Linked DNA regions of Homo sapiens: all the other regions are linked to region 3. The links come from fine-mapping of genetic effects on gene expression. A gene starts in region 3. Each other region holds a variant in brackets. All regions are shown on one strand. Distances are between the middles of the regions. Region 1 holds the start of LOC107985409 (a long non-coding RNA gene). Region 2 overlaps SIRPB1 (signal regulatory protein beta 1). Region 3 holds the start of SIRPB1 (signal regulatory protein beta 1).

Evidence for each region. PIP is the estimated chance that this variant, and not a neighbour inherited with it, causes the effect.
Region 1: its variant is fine-mapped to the expression of SIRPB1 in whole blood (TOPMed, PIP 0.93).
Region 2: its variant is fine-mapped to the expression of SIRPB1 in whole blood (INTERVAL, PIP above 0.99).

The regions. Positions count from the first base shown.
Region 1 is chr20:1,555,665-1,564,207 of GRCh38, forward strand. SIRPB1 (signal regulatory protein beta 1) reads right to left here. Exons shown (of 6, transcript NM_006065.5): 6 at 5,721-8,543. It overlaps LOC107985409 (a long non-coding RNA gene), which reads left to right and starts at 2,343. Exons shown (of 3, transcript XR_007067493.1): 1 at 2,343-2,460; 2 at 4,881-5,001; 3 at 5,788-5,873. SIRPD (signal regulatory protein delta) reads right to left here and starts at 2,041. Exons shown (of 4, transcript NM_178460.3): 1 at 1,917-2,041. The coding sequence starts at 1,989. The variant T/A (reference allele first, on the strand shown) is at 4,246.
Region 2 is chr20:1,566,817-1,575,359 of GRCh38, forward strand. SIRPB1 (signal regulatory protein beta 1) reads right to left here. Exons shown (of 6, transcript NM_006065.5): 3 at 4,904-5,221; 4 at 3,989-4,321. Among named protein-coding and RNA genes, the nearest start is that of SIRPD, 13 kb to the left of the region's middle. The variant T/C (reference allele first, on the strand shown) is at 4,102.
Region 3 is chr20:1,614,949-1,623,491 of GRCh38, forward strand. SIRPB1 (signal regulatory protein beta 1) reads right to left here and starts at 5,061. Exons shown (of 6, transcript NM_006065.5): 1 at 4,921-5,061. The coding sequence starts at 4,996.

The sequences.
Region 1 (8,543 bases), 59 kb before region 3:
TTTAAAAACAAATAAGTTCTACAAAACAATGGAGGACTTTATTTTGAATGGTTTTGCCATCTTACTCGGTATATTCCTTTTCTATCGCTGAATAACAAATTACGACAAACTTAGAGGCTGAATACAACACATATTAATTATTTCACAATTTTTGTCCATTTGTAATTCAGATATAGCTTAGCTGGGTTCTCTGCTTCAAGGTCTCACCAAGCTCCACTCAAGGTGCCAGCTGGGCTGTGTTCTCATCTGGGGGTTTGACTGGGGAAGTGTTCATTCTAAGTTCACTCAGGTTGTTGGCAGAATTCAGGTCTTTGTGGTTGTAGGACTGAGGCCCTCAACTTCTAGGGGCTTCCCTCAGTTCATTGCCATGTGGGCCTTCTCACAGGCAGTTTGCAACATGGCTCCTTGCTTCTTTAAGGCCAGAAGTTGCAAAAAAACTCTAGTGTGATAGATCTTACACAACCTAACATACTCAAGGGGGAGACAGTGCATCACTTTGGCCATATTCTATCAGATAGAAGCATGTCACACACAACTGAGATTACATAAGGGTGGGATAGTTGGGAGTCACCTTACAGTCTGTGTACCTCACCCAATAAGTACAGTTAAAAATTCAAGTGAGTTTTACTAGCTTTAAGTATCTTAAGTTAGCTTTTACCTAAATATTTTTAGTCATCCTTAACTCTCCATTGAATAAAAAGAGGAAGCTTTATAGTTACCCTTCCTATGTATAAAGCACAGACAGATATAAATGCAGTACATAAACCAACAAAGAATATATCTAAGTTATTAAAATTTCATGTTGAGGCTATTATGAGTTGAATTGTATGCCTCCGAAATATATGTTGAAGTCTTAACCACAAGTAGCTCAGAATGTGACCTTACTTGGAAATAGAGTTACAGAGGAAATCAAGTTAAAATGAGGTCATTGAGGTGGGTGCTAATCCAATATGGTGGATGTTTTTATAGGAAGTGGAAATTTGGACACAGAGACAGACATACATGGGAGTAAGATGATGTGAGGATACAGGGAGGGTGGTGCCACCTGCCATCCAACAAATGTTTGAGGCTACCACTGCTAGAAGCTCAGAGACAGACATGGAACAGATTCAACCTCACAGTCCTCAGAAAGAACCAACCCTGCCCACACTTCGATTTTGAATATCTAGTCTCCAGACCTGTGAGAAAATTAATTTCTGTAATTTAAACCACCCAGTTTGCAGTACTTTTTAAGAGCAGCCAAATGCAGTGGCAACAGAGAAATAAAAAACTGAATTTCACAGAAAGAAGTGTAAAATCTGCCAGGGGCCAGGTGTGGTGGCTCACGCCTATAATGCGAGCACTTTGGGAGGCCGAGGCAGGTGGAACTCTTGAGCTCATAAGTTTGAGACCAGCCTGGGCAACATGGTGAAACCCCATCTCTACAAAAAAGACAAAAATTAGCTGGGCATGGTGGCGCGTGCTTGTAGTCCCAGCTACTTGGGAGTTGGAGGCACGAGAATCACTTGAGCCCAGGAGGTGGAAGTTGTAGTGAGCCAAGATCGCACCACTGCACTCCAGCCTAGGTGACAGAGTGAGACCCTGTCTCAAAAAAATAAGTAAAGGTAAAAATAAAATAAAATAAATTACACCCTCCAGAGGCTGGAGGGTGAGAGCTGTGATGGATGCTGTGCCCCGCCCTGTGACCATAGGTGTGAGTCGTTTACCTGAGCAAAGAGATTTGCAACAGACATGGCCACCGGGAGACTTTGTCAGAATTGGGGACCATCCCAGTGTAGTCTTCTGAGTTCTGCCTGTTCTGGGATAAGATGGAGAAAACCCTCCCAAAAGAAATTCTATGGGAACAGGTGAGGGAGAGTTCACTAAACAGGCAGAGGGGAGAACCCACCACACACATACACTGAGGCCCCACTCACCTGCCAGTTCAAGCAGCAGATACAGCAGTAAGGAAGGCAGAGGTGGGTGGAGTGGGGAGGCAGGGATGGGCATTGTGGTGAAACCTGGAGCTTGCTCTGCCTGAATGCCTGTCCTGGAGATGCCCTCGACTCAGTGCTCCGAGCAGAGAAGACAGTTCTTGCCTCTGTGATGTCAGAGGAAGGGGATTGTGATGAGAGGAAAGGCCAGGGGACTGGGACACTTTTTCCTTTGTGATTATAAAATTGAACAGACAAGGTTGCTTCAAGCTAGGAAGTTGCTGCTGGAAGTATTTAGCTTTGCTGGGGCTGGGGGGCTTGACACCCACAGCCTTATACTCCTTCCTGAGTTTCATCCCATCTCACAGGTTCTCCCCAACTTCATGGCCTTTGCCTATCTAGGAGCCTCAGACACATAGGCTAGACAAAGGCCTCATCCACATGATGCGCAGGTATGGGTCTAGCTCCTGCATGAGCTCAACATCTGGGCCTGTCTGAGCTGCACAGCTGAAGAAAGAGACAAGATGTCTATAGCCTCACCCACTTGGTAAGAGTTGGACTTTACAATGGATGCCCTTTCTTGCACTCCAGAGTAGTTAGAGGTAAAAAACAAGCAATATCTGCTGTGGGCTCTTGGCTTTTCTGTGGGTCCCTCCATACACTACCAGGAACTGCTTCCTTTTTCCTTCCTGCAGAGGAATCAGGCATGGCTGAGAAAGACATTCGAGTTGTGCAGGTGGTGATGATTTGTGCTTTAGAGGATGGAGGAGGCCTGCAGGGAAGGCGGAGCTGCGGGGAACACTCTCTAGGAGGGAGAGTAACATGCCTACAAACACCTGGGAAGGTGAGGGCTGCCTCTCCTGCTTGGGCTGGACCTGGGACCAGCTCTCAGAGATGGGATTGGAGGGGCAGAAGAAATGCCCCCAGAAAGAGGGAGGAAGCAGCATGTTGGCATCCTTCTCTCTCAGCTCTGGAATGGGTTCTTCCTAAGCACAAATGTTGTGTTCAGGGACACTCAGCCCACACTCAGCTGGTGACCCTTTAATGTCCAAGCATCCACAGGCAGGCACTGGCTGCCATGGCTGTTTCCCCATTGCCTCCTCATGACTTCTGCCTCCTCCTCAGGAACCAGCTAGATGTCAGGGCCGGGAGAGGTGTTAGACCCTCTAGGAAAAGAAAGCAGAGCCAGGCTGGCACGTTCTCTCTGAGACGACAAGAGTCCCCATCCCCTTGTGATGTCATCATCCTATCCCGTTGTTCTGAAATGATGAATTCCACAAAGGAATTCCTATCCATGGCCCCTGCTTGGAACTAGACAGGAACATTCCTCCAGCCTCCATCATCCTCCCCTTCCCCTACTCTGAGGAATCTTCTCACCTTTCATTAGACTCTAAGTTCCTTGGAGAGTCAGTACTCACGGGTCAGTATCCAAGAGTGCCAGCTTTGGAATCAGATATAATCTAGGCTAGAATCCTGAACGCACCTCCTAAGAGCTGAGTAATCTTGGGCCCATGATACAGACCTGTATATTCTGCAACCTTCTTGACATCTTCATTTGTATATATATATATATATGTATTTTTTTTTTCGAGACAGAGTTTCGCTCTTGTTGCCCAGGCTGGAGTGCAATGGTATGACCTCGGCTCACTGCAACCTCTGCCTCCCGAGTTCAAGTGATTCTCCTGCCTCAGCCTCCCGAGTAGCTGAGACTACAGGCGCCCACCACCACGCCTGGCTAATTTTTGTATTTTTAATAGAGACAGGGTTTCACCATATTGGTTAGGCTGGTCTCGAACTTCTGACCTCAGATGATCCACCTGCCTCAGCCTCCCAAAGTGCTGGGATTTCAGGTGTGAGCCACTGAGCCTGGCCTCTTTGTATACCTTAAATATTCAAGTTTGAGTTTCAGATCTGCACTCACAAACCTTATCTTCTCCCACACCATGCCTGTTTTGTATATGGTACCATCATCTAAGCAGTTTGTCAAACCAGGAAGGGACTCATGTTCTATACCCTCACTTATCCACTTGTTACCAAGTGAAAGGGGGTTGCTGCCTGATGTGCTAGAAGCCAATACTGTGACACCAGGCTTTTGAGAAAAGAAAAGCTTTTTATTGCAAGTTGACTAACAGGAAGACAGAAGTCTACCTCAAATCTAGCTCCATGTGCTGGCTTCAAGGCAGTAGTTTTATTAGCAAAAGTTTAGGGGTTGGATTCTGGGATTAGTATGTGATTTGTGAAAGGAAAGGGGAGGTCTGGAAAGTCCTTGGGCATGTACAGTTATCTCTCTATGCCTCTTCACGGCTCCCATGTGCAAAACCCTGGGGCGTCA[T/A]CATGAAATACGTGGTAGAAACTCAGGCTGTGACATCAGCAAGCTCATTCTGAGCAAACTCCAGTTGGCCATATTGGTTCCAACAGATTTTAGTCAGTTTTGTTATCCTACAAGTGGAGGAAGTTTCGGCAGTTTAGCAATTTTTTTTTTTTCTTATCTGCTATCCTGTAAACTCAAGAATTTCTTAGTGACTGGTTTCTTTAACTCTTTGGGGGCATAGTTTCACACTCCTATCTTGCCCCTACCAGGCCCTATTGGATTTACCTCCTAAATCCCTTCTGAATTAATCTCTTTCTCCATCTCTATCATCATCTCTTGCCTGAATAAGAACAATTGCCTTCTCACTAGGGTACCCCCATTTTTATTTGCCCCCTATAATCTCTTTCTCCTTCTTCAGCCAGACTGGTCTTTTTACAACATAGATTTAATTATGTCCCTCTCTTGAATAAACATTTTTGTGGATTCTCATTAATCTGGAGGTACTATAAACAAGGCTTTCTTCTGTGACTGACTTGCTCCCTTAGAGATGAAGGGATCCCCACCTTTCTGATACGTAGCATAGCTTCACTGTCCCAGGTTGGGTTCCCTGGGAGACAGACTCTGGGGTGAAGATGAACAAGCAGGTTATCTTTCAGGGAGTACTTTTAGGATCAACACTTGTGGACGGGAGAAGATGGAAGCAGGACTGGGTAGAAGAAGAAGCTGGGCTGCAATGAAGTCCCATTGAAGACCTCAGCTGACCTTGCATGGAGCCTGGTACTAGGATATTCCTCCAGAGTTGCTCTGAGTTAGGATAAGAGAGCTGGGCCTTTATACGACTAGGTTGATGAGTCCAATGAGATGTGGTTTGTTACCAGATACGACCTAAGCAAGGGCACTCCCTTCAGCTGAGACAATCGCAAATAGAGCTGATGCTGAGGACCATCTCCACAGCCAGGTGCCTCTCAGCATCCATTACACAATTCATGGGAACAACTTGTTCCTGTGAAGACTTGGGCTCAGGACATTATTCACTCACTCATAGTCAGGTCCTCAAAGCTATCCCAGCTCACCCACATAACCCAAAGTTTTCTGATCCCACTTGGTCTGACCTGGATTTTACTAATGGGAAAAGTTTAGGGTGAGCATCACGGGGGATTGAGAAGCCACTTCCTCTGGGATCTGAGTGCCTAGATCTGGGGTGAGCTCTGGTAGTGGACAGAGGAAGGACGAGAGGAAAGGAAACCTCAGGCTTTTGAAGTGAGATAAAACTTTGGAATATCAACAAAGTCTCCCTACCGCACATTTCCTTGCATTGTTCCCCACGGGGTACAAGAGGCAAATAAAACCTAGCTGAGGACAAGACGTTAATTTTTTCTAATAGACTTAATTTTTTAAGGACAGCTTTAGATTTACAGAAAAATTGAGCCCTATCATTAGCATCTTACATTGATATGATACATTATTATAATCAATGAACCAATATTGATACATTATGATTAATCAAAGTTCATAGTTTATTTAGATCTTTTCTTTTTACCTAATGTCGTTTTTCTCTTCCAGCATCCCATCCAGGATACCTGTTACATTTACTTGTCATATCTCCTCAAGCTTCTCTTGGCTATGACAGTTTTTTAGACTTTCCTTGATTTTGATGACCTTGACAGTTTTGAGGAGTTCTGGGCCCGATGTTGCAGAATGCCTCCTTATTGAAATTTGTCTGATGTTTTCCTCATGATTAGATTGGGGTTGTGAGTTTTGGGGGGAAGGTAATAGAGGAAAAGTGTCATCTTCATCACATCATATTAAAGGTACATATTAGTGACATGATTTATGATTCTTGATGTTGATTTATAACTGTTGATGAACTCTTGATCACCTGGCTGAAGCTGTATTTGTCAGATTTTTCCACTGTAAAGTTATTTTTTCTCCTTTTTTCCATGCTGTACTCTTTGCAAAGAAGTCGCAGTGCACAGCCCACACTTCAGGAGTGGAAGTTATGTTCCACCTCCTTTAGAGTGGAGTGTATAAATAAATTATCTGGGACTCTTCTGCACTGGAGATTCTTCTCTTCTTTCCCATTAATTTATTCAATCATTTATTTATATCAGTATGGACTCAGATATTTATTTTATACTTTGGACTATAACTCATTACTACTTTACTTATTTTTTTGCTGAAAGTGTTCCAGCTTTGGCCTTTGGGAGCTCTTTCAGTTGGTTCCTGCGCCTCTTTGATGTACTCCAGTCACTGTGGGTTTTGGTTTTGGGGTTGACTTTTTTTTCTTGTTAGCACTTTCTTACTTTCTAGAGGATGTTGAATTTTTGATGGAATGTTTTAAACAGAAAGAAGAGAGAGTAGTCTTTAAAGAAAGAGCTTGAGAATACAGCACACAAGCCAAGTGATCAAATGAAGAGAAGTTTTCTTTTGAAATCCAACACCTAGTAGAAACCAATGACCTCAATGATGTATTCACTCATTTAAAAAAATTGACAGCCTATTATATGGCAGACACAGTTCTGGCAACTGAGGATACAGATAATCCTCCCCCACCCCCAACCCCCCACGATATAACTGACATTCCATTTGCGTAACATAGATAAATACAGGCAGTTCTCACTTTGGTGATGACATGCATGCATTTCTCTTACCATAGTTTAGTTAAGTAACATCAGTCCCACAACACAAGTCTCAAAATTTAGGTGCCATAGTAAATTTAATGTAATTTGCATAGAGTACAAACTTCTGGGCTAGCTCTTCAGTCCACAAATCACCATGGTAATAAAAGCTCGTCATGATCAGTAACCAGTCATGTTGTGTCTTTCAAAGTCTGTTGGTGATTGGTCCCTATGGCTCTCCTACTCAAACAGCAAATCCTATAGTTGGGTTGCCTCCTTGCCTCCCAGTGATGAGCCCATATGACATTTTACAGAAATGAATAATTGAAAGAGGAATTTTGCAACCAAGATGAAAGTGCAGTGAAGAAATGAGAAGTGAAAATGCTGCAAGTGAGGTTCAAATTGAATGTGAGTGGAATTCTAGAAGTACAAATAGTTGACTGTGGCAATGTAGACCCTGATGCAGGAACTTCAGATAGGCAGCCAGAGGGAGGTAGTAAACGCAAACTGCCACAAATGGGAGAGGAGTGGTAATAAAAGGGCTGAAGATGTCCCAAAGGTTGAAATGCCAGCAAAAAACTTCACATGAAAGGATCTTCTGGAGTGATTCCACAATATTGAAAATTCAAGGGATAAGATGTTGGAAGCTAGTCCAAACTTAGAAAGATGGCAAAACACCAAGGTATAATAGAAATGATGCTTGCTGGCTAGGCATGGTGGCTCATGCCTGTAATCCCAGCACTTTGGGAGGCCAAGACAGGTGGATCACCTGAGGTCGGGAGTTCAAGACTAGTCTGATCAACATGGAGAAACCCCATCTCTACTAAAAATACAAAATTAGCTGGGTGTGGTGGTACATGCCTGTAATCCCAGCTACTCAGGAGGCTGAGGCAGGAGAATCACTTGAACCCTGGAGGCGGGGGTTGCAGTGAGCCAAGATCACGACATTGCACTCCAGCCTGGGCAATAAGGGTGAAACTCCATCTCAAAAAAATAAAAATAAAATAAACAAATGAAAAGAAACAATGCTTGCTCCGTGTATTAGCCCATTCTCACACTGCTATAAAGAACTACCAGAAACTGGATATTTTATGAATAAAAGAGGTTTAATTGGACTCACAGTTCCACAGGCTTAACAGGAAGCATGACTGGGAGGCCTCAGGAAACTTACAACCATGGTGGAAGGAGAAAAGGAAGCAGGCACCTTCTTCACATGGTGGCAGGAGGGAGAGAGAGAGAGAGAGCGAAGGGGGACTTGCCACACACTTTCAAAAAACCAGATCTCATGAGAACTCACTGAGATCTTATGAGAACTCACTATCACAAGAACAGCAAGGGGGAAGTCCGCCCCCATGATTCAGTCACCTCCTACCAGGCCCATCCCACAACACATGCAGATTACAATTTAAGATGAGATTTGGATGGAGACACAGAGCCAAACTATATCACTCCATATTAGAAATATACAAAAAAAGGCAAGCACTCTTCCAACTACTCTGGATACATTTTTACAAAGAAACAGCACTTGAACTCTCAATGTTTCTAATGCTTTGAATTGTAGTGCACAAATAAATATTTATTTCATTATATTTTCATTGTCCTCTACATTTGTAACTGAGAGTGTGAGAGTTTCTAATATTTTGACAAAAAATGGTAAAGGTCACAGAATGATCATTGTTTTTCTGATTGACTATGGAGACT
Region 2 (8,543 bases), 48 kb before region 3:
GGGAGAGGACCCCATATTCTCATGATCTCAGGGAGCCCTCCAGGGACAAGACCCAATTAAACCTGCTGGCTGGAAAATTCCCTGGTGAGTCAGGGAATGTGCCTCGGGCTTGGAAGGGCCTCAGACATCATCTCTCCTACCTCAACCCCAGTGCAGATGTCATCTGAAATCTTTCTGTTGGACACAGAGAGTCAGATCTACGGAAGCTCATGTTGGGACTGTTTGCATTTTTTAAATAAGGGGTTTTGGATGTTAAAAGTAACAAAGGTATTAAAAAAAATTTTTTTTAAAATAAAATGGTGCTGGTGGGTCCTTAAGGAAGGAATGGAGACCTCAGCATCTATAGCCGCTGGAGTGTTGGAGTGTTGCAGGCCGGCAGTTCTCAGATGGGTGGCTCTCTGGGGCTTTCTCTCCTTTGAGGAGAGCTGCACTGCCCAAGTTTATTCCTTCTAAGGGGCAGCCCACATGAGAGATAGACTGCATTGGGAATATGAAGGGCCAGCCCTTCCCCTCAATTTGAAAAAAATCTACAGGACCCTCCGGCCTTTTGCCTCTCTGCAAGAGCAGCTGCATCTTTGTACTGCCTGCACTGTGGCTCAGCACCTCCCTCCTCCTACACTCCTGCCTCCTCATTCCTGAGGCATGTTGACCCTGACAGCACTCTAGGATGCCTCCTGCATTGCTTTATGCATCCTCAGGTGGCCTCCCAGAGAAACTGTCCTTGGGAAGTGGTCTGGAAAGAAGACTCTAAAATATAAGTTGGGAATCTGATTACTCATCAGCTAGCAATGAGGACCCCAGGGCTGGTGGTGAATGGGACTGGAGAAGCCGTGACTTGCTGTTGTGTTGCGATTGATAACACTTTCACTGGCACTAAACTGGGATAGTGTTACCACAGGAAGGAAATTCCTTGCCATTAGCCTTTTGAAAACAGATTGGGAAATGGTCGTTATAAGAACTAAGGTGTTAGCTGTTGCTGGGCATGAACTCTTGGGAGGAAGGCAATGAGAAACTAAGAGTGATTCATCATGAGTTAAAGTTCAGCTGGAAGCCAGAGGACTTCTTGGCAGCACTGCAGATTCTTATTTCTTGGAGCCACAGGGCAGAAGGAATAGAGAATTGGGTCCTGGGCATCATAGAAGAGTAGCAGAATCACAGCGGAGCATGAATCTCAGTTTCAATGGCTGCTATGCTGGGATAGGGCCCTGATGGGGAAGTTGTGGGACCCTGAAATGTGGAAGGAGACATTTGGGTCAAACCACTCAAAGATTGTCAGTTGACTTCAGAGTTACTGGGGACAATTGCAGTGGCATCGCTACTTGTCGCTATAAATATCCTCCCCAAGCCAAAAGAAGAAACAGAAAAGGAAAAGTAAATTCTACACAATCCAGGCCCTAAATATTGCTTGAAGAGAGAATGCCAAACTGCAAAATGGCTGAGTCAAAAGGGAACACTCACCTAACCCTAGGGCACAGTCTCTCACTAGGCTCCCATGCCACTGATGCAGCACGTCACAGAAGGCATCCTGCAGTTTGCCTGCCAGCCTAGACAACCTAAAATGCATTTCCAGACTTAGCATATGTGCCAGGATGCCATGTCAGACACACTGAAAGAACCCAAAAATGGCAGCCCTCTCTCAGCCCCAGTGGGTGGTTGGAAGTCTAAGAAAAGACTCAACCTTGTCCAGATGGTACAGACTCATCTCATCCTGTGCCTCCTTGAGAAGTACAACTATGAACCCAAGAAATATCATGAGGAGCAGGCATAGGAGAACTTCCAAGGTGGAAGAGCGAGGTAAGAACCTGAGGACTGAGGAACAGCCCAGCAGCCAAACAGCAGGGACTCTATGCCCAAATACCAGCCCCCAGCCACAGAAAGTGATGAAGGGAGGACATAGAAAAGAGGAGGTCTCAAGTCAATAAATATAAATCCCGCACTTAAAGAAACTACAAAAAGTAGGGCAAAGTAAACCCAAAGAAAGCAGGAGATAGGAATTAATTTAAAAAAAAAAAGAGAGAAGAGAGCAGATAATTAATGAAACTGAAAACACAAAAACAATACAAAAACCCATTGAAACAAAGAGTCAATCTTTTGAAAACACCAATAAAATGGGAAAAAACTCTAGCATGACTGATGAAAAAGAAAAGAGAAATGACACATTTTTAGTATCAGGATGAAACGTGGGATACCATTGCAGACCCTGCAGACACCAAAAGGGTTATGAGAGGATATTATGAACAACTCTACACACATAAATATGACAACTTAGATGAAATGGACCAAAAGTTATGCAAAACACAACTTACCAGGGCTCACTCAATAGGAAACGAAAAATGTGAATAACCCTAAACTATTAACGACATTGAATCTATGATTATAAAATATCCAAAAATATCCCTGGGGCCCAGATCTTTCAAAGGAAAACACAAGCATTTAAAGATAAATTAAAACCAAATTTAACACACAGGAAAATGGTTCTAAAAAATTTGGTAAAATGTGAATGTATGCTCCATTTTAGATGATATGAGGAAATTATTTTAATAACTTTATGAAATTTAGTGATTTGAACACTTAAAATTTAAGTGGACAATGACACTGGTTTTGTGAAAAATGTCCTTGATCACATGATCCCTCAATGTGCAACTGCAGGTGCATGCGTGAGCAAGTTTTCAGTGGACGTGACTATGCACCTTCCACACATCTCTGATGATTGGGGACATTGTTTGTCTTCTATTTCGTGTCTTTCCTCTTCTGGCAGGCAGGGACATGAACAAATCCGTGACTCAGCACTGACCCAGGAGATGACGCAAACATCATAGGGTGTTTTGGAAGGAACCTGAGTCCTTATTCTTATTTCCTGGAGCCTCAGGGCAGAAAGAATAGAAGATTGGGCCCCAGCCATCATTAGAAGAGTAGCAGAATCACAAAGGATGTTGAATGTCAGCTTTAATGGCTTCTATGCTGGGGTTGGGCCCTGATGGGGAAGTTGTGGGACCCTGAGATGTGGGAGGATGTATTCGGGTCAAAGCACTCAAAGATTGTCTTTCGACTGGAGTAGAGGGACCCCTCCTGGTATTAAAAGAGAGGGAAATAAGACATATTTTGGTTATAGAGAGGGGGAACACTGGCCAAATTTGGGTCCTTGGGACAAAGCGCAGCAGAAAGGGAAAGTTTCTCTAATTAGCACAAATTCCCATTATAGCCTGGTAGTGAGCCTGTCCTCAGGGACTAGATTTACCTTCATTACTTTGGACCAATAACCTGGTCTAATGACAAGAAGTCTTCAACAACATCCCTCATTACTTCCTAAGTCCTGGTTTCCCCTTTGGTAAAACTCCAAGCTCACTGGGTGTTTGAAGCAGGAAAGGAGATCAGAGATGAACAGAAATTTGCATATAGTAAATGTGCAGAGTGGTTGTGATTATTGTTGGTCAAATATCACCATCAGAACACAAAAGAAGCCTGTGCTGTGACCAGGTCACCTGGGGGTCTGTCCAGGCTTAAACTTCACTTGTCTTTCTGAAATTTATAGAGCAGATGCTGGAGACTGGTGGCTGAGGTCACAGATGCGGATGGAAAAGTTTAGGATAGAATAGGGACAAGGTAGAGGTTAGAAAGTGTAAAAGGCAAGGTGCTGTGCTGGCGAGAAATGCAGAAGAAGGCGAGACACAGGACTTCATAAACAAACGGATCACCTCCCTCTCTCTTTTTTCCTTTAATGTATATTTATGTCAAAATATCTATCAAGTTGTGCATCAGACTTGACGCACAGTTTCTCCTGGTAGATGGGGCTTAAGGGTGTCTACAAATGGCCAATTGTTACCTTGAACCTTCTAAGTAGTGGTGACCCATGGAGTGTAGGATTTTAATGTAGACGTTAAAATTCTACTTTATATTTATAGACTTCTAGCTTATTTTATGACAAGCATGAATATTGCTTTTAACATTAAAGAAAAAGACAAAATTTAAAAATGGGAAGTAACCGCACCATGGGTGATATCTGAGCCGTGCTCCTTCTGGTGCGCTGAGATCTCCAGGGCATAGCTTTTGCTGACTGCTTGCTGCCCATCATGCTCCACCTGACAGGTGAGCACCACATCG[T/C]CCCTGTGGGCACAGGTGTTCACCAGGAGCCAGCTCATCCAGTTGTAGGTGCCATCCTTGTTCTCTATGAGGGTCGAAGCTGTTTCTGTCCGGGACACATTTCCATTCTCCAACCAGGTCAGCTGTAGTCCCCGGGGGTAGAAATTGCTCACCTGGCAGGTGACGTTTGCCTGGTTCTCTGCCCTCATGGGCTGTTGAGTAACCTCCAAGGTGGGTGGAACTGAAACAGCACAGGGCAGAAGCTCTGATCTTGTGGCACAGACAGATCACAGGGAGGGCTAAATAACGTAGCTCCCACCAACACAGTGAGGGCATCACCAGGACAGTGCTAGGCAGGCAGCAGGTGCTCAGACATTGAGGGCACTCGTTGCATATGAGTGAAATTACTAAGCACAGTGCCTGGCGCACAGTAGGTGCCCAAGGACTGTTAGCTGCTGCTAGGCTAAGGATGAGTGAAATCTACAAGCACAACCCCTGGCATGCAGTTGGAATGTAAGAACTGTAGCAAAATCAGTGAAATCGCCGAGCACATAGTGATTTGGCTCCTAGTAGGTGCTCACTAATTGTAGTTGCTCTTGGTGAAATAAATGAAACTCTGTAGCCCAGAGCTTGGCACATGGTTGCTGGTCCCCTGACAGCTGCCATTAAAATGATAGTAAGTGACCGGCTCACCTAGGTGCATGGGAGGTGGACAACACAGTTAGGAATTAGATTCCAGGCCTTTCAAGCTCTGGAGCCTGGGGAGAGGGGAGTGGGCTTGGCAGCCAGGTGTGGGCTTGGGCTGGGTGTGAGGGTCTTCTACCTCGGATGGCCTCAGACAAGTTGGCAGTCCCACGAAGAGGGTCCCCCTGCAAGGTGATGTGGGCTATCTCGCAGATGACTTGAGAGTGAACGTCCCCACGGGTCAGCACCACCCTGGCTGTGCTGTGGATGCTGTAGGACACACTGTCTCCTGCGGGGTCCACGTTGGTCTGGAAGTCTGAGAGCTCATTCCCATTTTTGAACCATTTCAGGGTGATGTCTCTGGGAGAGAAGCCATGGGACTCGCAGGTGAAGCTCACTGTGTGCTCAGGTGTGGCCCTCACCGCAGGGCCCGATACCACGGGGGCAGAGGGTTTGGCTACAAAAGGACCATCGATAATCAGGAGACATGACTCAGATGACCATCACTGATGATAAGCGTTTGACATGTTAAGAACCTTCTGAGACGTTAGTTTTTAATCTTTCTAATAATGTCGTGAAGGCAGTGTCCTTATTCTCATTTTACAGATCAGGACACAACAGCTCTTAGAGGTGAGAACCAGGCCATGGTCAGACAGTGAGTAGGGGCAGGGCCCAGAGGGAAGTCCAGGCCTGAGTTCAAAGTCCTCTCCACACAGGGAGACTTCCACCAATCTGGGCATAGGAACAAAATTACTGATTGGTCTCCCTCCATGTTATTAACTGGTCCTAGCTGTCCTCCCCCGGAAGGCTCACTAACCTCAGAGAGGGCATTTATAGAAGCCAATACAGGGATCAATGGCAAAGTGGCACCACCGTGAGAGCTGCAACCAGGCTGCTCAGCCCAGGACAGGGGTGGGCTGACAACCCCAGCTCCTCATCCGCAAAACAGGAGGACGGAGGACGGCGTTTCTACTTCCTGGGATGTCGCCAGGATTCAATGGGGCAATGGAAGCAGTTTTGCTCTGGATCAAACACAGAAGATGCTTCCCCCAAAAAACACAGATCTATCTTTAACCCAGACTTTACAGATACACAGAGGTCTCTCTTTAGGTATTATAAAAATATGAAACATTCCGTATTTTTCTTTTCACAAATATTTCGTTCTGTCAAATAAAAGGCATTAATTAAGGATAAAGCTTTAACGTAGAGCCAAGAGTTTGTAAGAGCATTGGAATCACACCTGCTAAAGGTCAAGCCACAGGATGTTGCAGTAGATAGACCTGGATAACAACTGAAGCCAGGGTCCGTGGGATTTTGATCTCTTTCACCTGGAGTACTTTAATGAAATAACCAATGAGAGTGGGTTTGCAGTTGAGGATTTTCAACCAGCTAATGAACTGTTTCCAAAAACAACCTTTTGTGAAAATCCCCTATAAAAAACCTGTCCTGTATTGCCATACGGGACACTATTCAGGGTTTCACTGACTCAGTGTACCCAAATTGCACCTCTTTATCTTTCAGATAAATGCTATTTCCTTTGGCCTTCCTAACAATCATTTTGCTGTTGTTGTTAGTTGTTCTAATCTGCTGGAAGTCCTAAATTTGAAAAGAGGAAATTTTTGGGAATCTGAATCTTCAGTTAGGACAGGTTTGGGTGAAAAACAAGGATCACTGAGTACTAAGAAAGCCAAAGGTGGTTAGCTTTTTCATCGTTAATTAATTACAAGAGACAAAGACCCAGGCCACACCAACAGACAGAAACCTATTCTGGGCCTTGAAAGCAAACACATTGGAGAATCAGAACAACGAGTGCAGTTTCTCCATGTAGATGAATTTTAAGGGTGTCTGCAAATTGCTAATTGTTACCTTGAACCTTCTGCCGTCCTCTTAGAAAGCACATATTATACGTTTGACTTTGCCAATATTAACTTGCTCCCTGATATGCGTGAAATAATGTGAGAGCACAGTAAGGAGGGTGTCACTTGAAGATGTCAAGTCTTTGAGACACCAGCAGCATGGGTGTCCCTAGAAGGCTGAGAGGCTGTCTTCAGTTCCGATTTTTTGAGGGCTTCTTGGCAGCCTGATGCTGGCTGCTCTCTCTGTACCTCTCAGCACTTCAATCCTCCTTCTATTTGTCAGAGGGGGTCCTCATGTGAGCCCTTGTGTAGGGCGAGACTCTGAGAGGATCCTTGGTGGCCAAGGGCCAAAAGTAGATAGAAACCCCACCCTGGGAAGATGAGTGAGGGTAAGTGCAAGGGCATAGCCTGGCATGTAGTAGGTGCTTAATAAATAACCCCTGTGACTGTAATCATGAGGTTTGGTCATTACTGCTTCTGGAGCTGCATAGCTATTCTTTAGGCAACAGAACAAAGAGGCACACAAACACCAAGGAAAGGCTCAAACCCTACTCACCGCAGCTGCCAGAAAAAACCCAAATGATAAAAGGAGCAGCAACCACCATGTTTGGCGAACTGGCTTTCAAGTAAGATCACAGGGGAAGCTGGAAGCATTTTGGAAGAAGGAGGGAAAAGATACCTCAGTGACATCTGGGAGTGCTGAGGGAGGGAGGCTTCTGGGGCTGAGGAGTGAGGATTTGCTGGGACTCCAGCACGTGTTTAGATACAAATGTTTTCAAGACAGAAGGTTCCCCAGCCCTGAGGCTGCATCTGAGCCAGGCTTTGTCCCAGTCTCCTATCTTGGGCCCTGAGGCCAGTAGCATGGGAGGGGTCCTGTTCAGGCTTCTGGGGCCTCCCAGAATGTTTCCAGAATGGCTGTTTTGAAGCACCCATGACCCAAAAAGCTGTTCTCAAAGCCCCAAAACCTGGGGCACCGCTTTTGCTAGGGGGCTGTGTATGAGAATCTTCTGGAGCCATTAAGAACTTTAGATATCCAGGCCCAAATTAGATGCAATTAAATTGGCATTTTAGGGGGGTTCCTGGGTCCAGCTTTGCAAACTTTTTTTTTGATAGTTTTCCCAATGATTCTAATGAGCAGCCAAGGTTGAAAGCCACTGGACTCCAACCCAAACCCCATTTATACTTGGGGCCTAGAGATGCCCTGACCTGTCTGAGGTCACACAGCTTCACCCTAACACAACTCACCTTTATTGAGCATTTACTGTGTGCTTGTTGATGCCCTAAGCATTTTACACAATATCACTCCTTCAGACTCGGCCCAGTCTGTGAGGTCAGTGTTACCATCAAAGGGTGAGGACATCGAGGCCTATGGTGGTGAAGCACCTTGTCCCAGGTCACAGAGCCAGGAAGTGGCAGAGCCGGGAAGAGGCCCAGGCAGCTGGGATACTGCCTGTGTTCTCCTAACGACAGTTCTGCAGAAGCTCAGTAATAACCTGAATGACACCACCATTAGGGGCTCTGTGCACATCCTCTCCAATCCTCACAGAACCCAGAATAGGCCATGATAATCAGCATCTCACCGATGGGGAAACCGAGGACTCAAGGGAAGGCAAGACTGGCCCAAGATCACACGATCTTGAAATAACACCTCACTTTGGGGGTGCCTACAGTGTGCTAGGTGATTTACAGAGAGAACCTTACGCTTACGACTTTCCTAAAGGAGTCCATGATTGTCTCTATTCTACAGATGAAGATGCCGTGGCTGAACAAAATGAAGGCACTGTCTCCCGATTCTCCATGTGTCCCAGTGGGCATTTCCTGTGTCCCACCAAGCACTTATGTCCATTAACAGAGCAAGTGTTCTAACTTCTTGAGCTCCAACACTGACTGCCACCTCAATTGTCCCTTTGAGATTCTAGACTT
Region 3 (8,543 bases):
GGATCCTGTTCCAATATCAATAATGACATCTGCCTTTCTTCAAGAGCACAAGATGATATAACATTGGTAACACCTCTTCAAAGAAGATTCATGTGATATGCATATTAATGTCACATAATCCAGCATCAGTAAGTTTTTTCTGGGGTGCTTGTGGCAACATATTCTTCATTTACAAATTTTACTTACAAATTAAAATCAACAGGCCCTCCTGTTAGTGTCTTTAAATGAATTAACAAATAAAAGTATCTCTTCTCTGTAGAGACTTTGGCTGTGTCTTTCATGCCTCTTGGAGTCTCTAAACCACTCATGATGGCCAGACATTTTCCCCAGGGCCTTTGATGCAAATATAATGCCCCTCTCAGCTTTTGCTATACTCCATTACAACAAGAAATTTCTGGTTATCTATTGGGCTCTCCTGGCTTAGAGTCCAGATCTGGGGAGCATACTTTCCTGTCGTACTCTTTAACCATAAATTGTCCCAAAGCCAGACTCTGCTTATCTGAAATGGAGCCCACTGGAATCTAAACTTCCATGAAAATACAAAACTAAGATCACTGCCAGGTAGAGCTGCACACCTTTCTGTTAACAGTTGGCATTATTATTACTCGGTTTGTTGATGCAATAATCCTCAACCAAACACTAGCTGAGTTCAGCAGCATATTAGAAGGAATATACACAATGAGCAAGTGGTATTTATTCCTGGAACACAAGAATGTTTCAATATACAAATGACAAAGAATGTAATACACCATATTTATAGAAGAAAGAGAAGAAACACATGATTATCTCATTTGATGCAAAACAGCATTTGAGAAATGTGGACATCTTTTTGTGAAAATACCATCAATAATAGGAATATATGAAAATTTCTATAAGATAAAAGTTATATACACATACCTTATTTTATTTTCCCTTATCAGTGGCTAATTTATGATTTTATTTACCTATTTATCATGTATATTGATTACTGTCATTATTATGACTTTATTGAAAAAAGAAATCAGTAAGGTAATCGCATTTACAATTACTACCAAAAAAGCTAAAATAGCTAGAAACAGATTTACTCAAGGACATGAAAGACCTCCACAAAAAAAGCTATAACACCCTGATGAAAAATAAATAGAACAAAAATAATGGAAAGATATCCATGCTTGTGGATTAGATAATTACTTTTGTTAAAAATATACATACTACCCAAAGAGATCTACAGATTCAATTCATTATTAGTAATATTTCAATGACATTTTCCTCAGAAATGGACAAAACAATCCTCAAGTTCACATTAGTCATAGAAAATTGTGAGTAGAAAAGGCAATCTTGAGCAAAAAGACTGGAGGCATCACATTGCCTGATTTCAAACTTGACTACCGTGCCATAGTAATCAAAACAGCATGGCACTGGCATAAAAATAGACACATAGACAAATGGATCAGACCAGAGAGCCCAGATATAAACGCACACATTTACACTCAATTGACCTTTGACAAAAATGTCAAGCAGACACAATTGGGAAAGGTCAGTCTCTTCAAAAAGTGGCATTGGGAAACCTGGATATCCATCTGTAGAGGAATAAAATTAGACCTTCCTCTCACATGACACACAAAAATCAATTCAAAATGTATTAAAGACTTAAGTGTAGGATCTAAAAGTGTAAAAGTACTGGAAGAAAAGTGCCATGACATTGGTGTGGGCAATGAATTTTCAGATATGAGTCCCAAAGCACAGGCAACAAAAGAAAAATAGACAAACGGCATTACAACAAACTAAAAAGCTTCTACACAGCCAAGGAAACAATCAACAGAGTGAAAAGACAACCAGCAGAATGGAAGAAGATATTTGCTAGCCATGCATCTAATGAAAAGTCAATATACAAAATATATAAGGAAGTGAAACAACTCAATATTAAGAAAACAACCCAACTAAAATATGGGCCAAAGATCTTAAAACCCATTTCTCAAAAGAAGACATTAAAATGGCCATCAGACCTATAAAAATACTCAGCCTTACTATTCATCTGGTAAATGCAAATTAAAACCACAGTGAGCTATCATCTCACACTTGTTAGAATGGCTACTATAAAAAAGATGATAACTAGTTTTGGAGAGGATGTGGAGAAAAGGGAATTCTTGCACATAGTTAGTGGGAATGTAAATTAGTAGAGCCATTAGCAAAAACAGTATGGAGGCTCCTCAAAAAATTAAAAATAGAACTATCATATGATCTGGCAATCTCACTATTGGGCATACATCCAAAGGAAATGACATAAGCATGTCACAGAGATATCTGTGCTCCCATGTCCATTGCAGCATTATTTACAATAGCCAGGATATTAAATTAACCTAGATGTCCATCAGCAGATAAATGGAGAAAGGAAATTGGTATACACAATGGAATTCTAATCAGCCTGACCAAAGAAGGAAATCCTATCATTTCCAACAATATAAATGATCCTGGAAGATATTATGCTAAGTAAAATAAGCCAGGCACAGAAAGACAATACTGCATAATGTCTCTCATATGTGGAATTTTAAAAAGTTGAACTCATAGAAGTAGATAGTAGAATATTGGTTACCAGGCACTAGGCAGGGGGTGCATTTGGAGAGATATTGGTCAAAGGATACAAAATTTCAGTTTAGTTAGGAGAAATTAGTTCCACAAATCTATTGTACAATATGGGGTCTAGAGTTCATAACACAATTCGTAACCTCAAAAATTGTTGAAAGCAGATTTTGAGAGATCTCACCACAGAAATGATACATATACAAGGTAGGTCATATGTTAATTAGCTCAAATTAGGCATTCTGCAATGTACACATATTTCATTAATATGGTATACATGATAAGTATATACAGTTCTGTCAAATAAAAATAAAATATTTTGTTAAAAGTTTCATTGAAATTAGAAACTTGGAGAAACAATGATAAAAAATGAAATCTCCTGTGTGTGCATGTACACTTACTTATATGCATACATGCATATACATATGTATACACACATATGTATACACACATTTGCAAATATATATACACACACATATATGTATATATACACACACACACATATATATGTATATATAGACACACACATATACATTCACAAATATATATCAAAGTGTGACCTATTGTGATAGTATATAAGTTTGTTTTGTGTATTAAATAAAATTACAACACACGTTAAAATCTCATTAAAATATCTGGCCCATAGAAAGTAAAATATGTGGCCCATAGAAAGCATCCAACACATTAATAACAAATTTAGAAGTACATACATCACAGTTGTAACTCTGGTTGTTGCTAACAAGTGTGGTAGGCAATAATTAATTCTATGTTTACTTCCCTGCATTTTCTAATATTTCTGCTAGTAGCATAACACGACTAAAAGAATGAACTTTGGAGCCGGTCGACCTGGACTTGAATCTCAGCTGCTCCACTGACTGAGGTAGGGGACAATGAATGGACAAGTTCCTCCCTCTGCCTGAGTCTTTGTTTGGAAATAGGGGATAATAGTTGCAGCTTTCACACAGGGATGTTGTGAGGATTAGTGGAGCTAAAACAGGCAAAATGCTAATAACTGTGTCTACATGGTAGGAAGAGCTCAATTGTTAAACTCTTACTGCTGTCATTTGGGTACAGTGTATGTGTGAGAAAAATAATTTGAAAAGTGAGACCCCTGCCCTCTAGGGCCTGTGAGGTGACATCACAGCAGGGCCCAGTGGGGAATTGAGAGGCTGCTGTGCCCAGCCCTGTGGTTCTGGGGTCAGCTCCATGGCCTGAGAAGGGATCAGGACAGGTAACTTGTCTGGGAGCTGTGAGCAGGGTTCTCCCAGGCTGCACCAGGAAAGGCCCTCCAATCCTGCCTGTCTTGGGAAGGGGAAAGAAATTATCCATGGGAAATTTAAGAGAACCAAAGGAGGTTGTAGTACCTGTTATGGGCTGAATGTGTCCCACAAAATGCATGTGTTGAAGCTCTAATCCCCAGCACCTCTGAACGTTACAGTTTGGGAGACAGGGTCTTTAAGAAGTAATTTAGTTAAATGAGGTCATTGGGGTGGGCCTTAATACAACAAGACTGATATTCTCATAAGAAGAGGAGATGAGGACACAGACACACACAGAGGAAGATCATGTGTTTAAGACACAGAGAGAAAATGGCCCTGTATAAGCCAAGGAGAGAGACTTCAGTAGAAACTAACCCTGCTGACACCTTGATCTTGGACTTCAGCCTCCTTAACTGCAAGGAAGTAAATATCTGTAGTTTCAGCCACCCAGCCTGCAGTTCTTTGTTATGGAAGCCCTAGGAAAGGAATATAGGACCCAGTAAGCAGCAAATGTGGAACTTCTTAAAGAGGAAGAGGCCACAGAGAAATGGGTGGTAAGAATCAGGTCACAGGGGAGGGAGGAGCATGGGGGAACAGAGGACAAAGTGAGGAGCACCCTTAGGGAGGATGGTGGCTGAACACTCCCAGGATACACCACACCACTGCCCTACTCAAGTGAGCACTATTACAGACTTCACATCCTCAGTTTGGTGAAGAGAGAGGGCTGGGCCTAGAGCCACATAACCCTGTTAGGGTGTCTCTGAGCTTACTCTGTGGACTTGGGCATGTCACTTGGCCCTAGGGCCTCAGGACTGGTGAGGATTTAGATAATGATTCTTCTCTGCTTTTTCAATTGAAATATTATCAAAATGTAAGTAATTGTTGTTGTGGTGGTTGAATCGTCCTGTGGTTCAATGCCTCTGGTAGCCAGCTGCAGATCCACAGAGAAAGTGCTCAGCTCCCTGATTTTCTGCTCTCAGTCAAAGCCTAATCCTTGGCCTTTCTTGGCAGCACTTGTCATTGTCCGGAATCCCTGAAAGTCCAGGGACAGGCCATGGCTCAGTGGGCAGGAAAAAAGATTTTAACCGAAGGCAGTGCTCACCTGTGAGTCTCCCCAGCAGTAGCGTCATCAGCAGGAAAGGACTAGGAAGGTGGGGCCAGGAGGCTGGCACGGGCATTCTGGAGACCTTAGGAGCCTGCTCTGTCCAAACGTCTGTGCTGGGAAGATCGCAGACTCTGCTCTGAGGAGAGAAGACAAGCCCTGCCTCCCTTAGTTCAAGAGGAAGTGGCTGCGATGGAGTGAAGCAGTAACCTGCTTCTGGATTGTGAAACAGAAATCAGGAACAGCAAGCAGCTACAATGCAAGCAGTTATGCATGCCCCATTTCAGGAGAATCAGACAGGCTTAGCAGAAATAATGCTTCCTTCCCACCTGAGGTCTTAACTCCTTCCATGACTCCTAACCCCATCTTTATGTCTTCTTGGTGATTTGCCATTTGGTGCTCTTAAGCCAGGAAGGACCTGTGGTTATGAAATGTTTCCTAAACTTTCCATCTCAAGACCTCAGGATGTGGTTGGCTTGTGGTCTCATTCTACAACAGCCTCAACCAAGTGCTACTCAGTTGGGGCAGGATGAGGGATCACTGGACCTGCTCAGTGTTGGAGAGGAACAGGTCTGCTCTTGAAATGGTTCCCTATTCCGAACTTTTATAAATATAAATGGCAAAACTTAGCCCAAATTCAGTCTCATGTGGCCGTTAGCACTTTCATATGCCTGCACCCAGCAGAAGGAATTATTTCCTGACTTCTTCCAGGAGAGGAAGTGGGCTTAGGGTAATAAGGATCTGCTTTGTGAGGTGAGGTGGGGATTATGGGTTATGGAAAGGGGATATGTTTATTATGGGGGAGAATATGGAGGGCAGATTCCTGGAGCAGTCACATCGATTTCAATACTCTTTGCTCTGCACATAGAACACCTATTCCATTCATCACTGTCTTCAGATGGGAACTGAGGAGGGAGGGAGAATAAATACCCTAAGAAGATGTGCTAAGGAGTTGGGGAAGTTACTGGGCCTGCCTAGGTTCAGTTTTGCCTTCTAACCTTGGGATAATAAGTCTCACTGCCATGTTTTAGTGAACATCAAAAGAGATAATGACTATACATCCCTGAGATTCAGTAGGTTATTATTGATACTCATGGTGCCAGGTGAAGAGAGGGAACTCAAATATTGCTTTTAAATGGATTTCTACTGCATGCTGAGTTTCCCACCAGTGGCCTTCTCCCATGTTCCCCGGACTTCTGGAACCCAGCTTTTATGGTGTACTTGGTCTACCTCTGACACTCTGAGATCAATTTCTCCCTCTGGATCCTCTTCACCCTGCTTTTTGTCAATCTGTAGATGAATTCCTTTTCTTACAATCTCCAGCTGTGTGACTTTCAACAAGACACTTGACTTCTCTAAGCCTTAACTTAATTACATGTAAATGGAAGTTATAACATGCACCTTGTAGTGATATGGTAAGAGTAATATAAGCCATACAGAAGGTTTGATTCATATTTAATTATAACCAAAAAATTGTGGCTATAATTACATTTGTGTACAGGGTGAGTTCACTGCTTCCCTGACATACTTGTGCTTTAGAAAAATTTCCTTGGTAGGAGAAATGGTTTCTCCTCCATCATCTGTGACTAAGAAAGACCTGTCTGGAAACCTCTCTTTCCCATGCTGGGCTTGCAATCCTTCACCTATCATGAGTAATTGTCAAATGAAATTGTAAAAGTCATCACATTTCCATGCAAATTTCTTTTTCAATGTGGCAGATGCACAGAGGGTGAAATCATCACCTCCTGCTCCACACTCACAGAAATGAATATAAAAATGATAAAATCATGTTAATCGATGCCAAATTACACTTTAAAACAAGAAACTAGTCTCTATATGACATGAAGGGTAGTAGCTGCTGTGTTTACTGCAGATGTCCTGTGCTCCAGGTACTGTGCCAAGCATTTTGTCAGTTACCTCATTAATTCATCACTCTGGTCCCATGAAATTAGCACTACCATTAACCTTTTTTTATAGGTGAGGAAACTTGAGGCACGCAGGCAATAATACATTTGTTCAACATCACCCAGCTTTTAGAACTAGAACACAGGTTGTCACACTCCATGGCCTTCACTATGACACCTCTCATAAGAAGGGAGAGATATCTCTCAGGAAGGAAGCAGAGAAGAAGCCATAACGTCAATTAGGCGCAGCCTCCACAGCAAGGTTGGGATAGGTGCCATGTTCCATAAAGTGCTGACAGCCCATGATCACTCAGGGCATTATTCCTGTAAAGATTACAGTGAAAGCAGTAATCACTAAAGATTTGGGGAAAAGCGACATCATAATAAATTCAAAAACAATAACTAAAAAACAAAAACAGCAATGAAAATAACATCTTAGAAAATAATACCTCAGAAAATAAAAATATAAAATGTGAAAATATTTTTAACATTAACATATTTAGTAACCTTATAGAGATAATGAAAAGAAAGTAAATCCATAAAACAAAGTCACGTGTGAAACAAGAATAGGTAGGTGTGCAGTAACAACAGGTATCTGAGAAAAGTAATAAAAAGAAGAATTTTGAAAAAATATAATTAGTGCTAAATTGTTTAAAAAACAAATAGGTGGATGTATTAATCTGTTCTTTCTATAATTGTTATAATGAAATACCTGAGACTGAGACTGGGTAATTGATAAAGAGAAGAGGTTTAATTGGCTGATGGTTTCAGAGGCTTTACAGGAAGCATAATGCTGGTATCAGCTTCTGGGAGGTCACAGGAAACTTACAAAAATGGCAAAAGGTGAAGGGGAAGTGAGCATATTTACACGACCAGAGCAGGAGGGAGAGAGAGAGTAGGGAGGTGCCACACATTTTAAAACCACCAGATCTCATGAGAACTCACTCATCATCATGAGAACAGCACCAAGAGGGAAATCTGACCCAAAGACCCAGCCAACTTCCACCAGGTCCTACCTCCAACACTGGGGGTTACAATTCAACATGAGATTTTGGTGGTGGCACAGATCTAAACCTTATCATTTTCTCCTGCCCACTTTCAAATATTATGTCCTTATCACATTGCAAATACAATCATACCTTCCCAGAAGTCCCCCAAAGTCTTAACTCATTTCAGTATTAAGTCAAAAGTCCAAAGTCTTATCTGAGACAAGGCAAGTGCCTTCCACCTATAAGCCTGTAAAATTAAAAATAAGTCAGTTACTTCCAAGATACAATGGGGTATAGGCATTGGCTTTAGCCATCTGAATGGGAATACTCCCATTTCAAAAGAGATACATTGCCCAAAAGAAAGGGAATACAGGCCTATGCAATGCAATCTGAAACCCAGCAGGGCAGCCATTAAAGCTCCAAAATTATCTCCTTTGACTCCATGTCTCACATCCAGGGCACACTGGTGGAAGGGGTGCACTCCCAAAACCTGAGCAGCTCCACCTCTGTGCCTTTGCAAAATTCAAATTCCACGGTTCTTCTCATACTTGGTGTTGAATGCCTGCAGCTTTTCCCCGCACATGGTGCAAGCTGCTAGTGGATCTATCAATCTTTGGTCTGGAGGAAGGTGGCCCTCTTCTCACAGCTCCACTAGGCAATGCCCCAGTGGGAATTGTGTGGGGGCTCCAACCCCACATTTCCCTTCTGCACTGCCCTAGTAGAGGTTCTT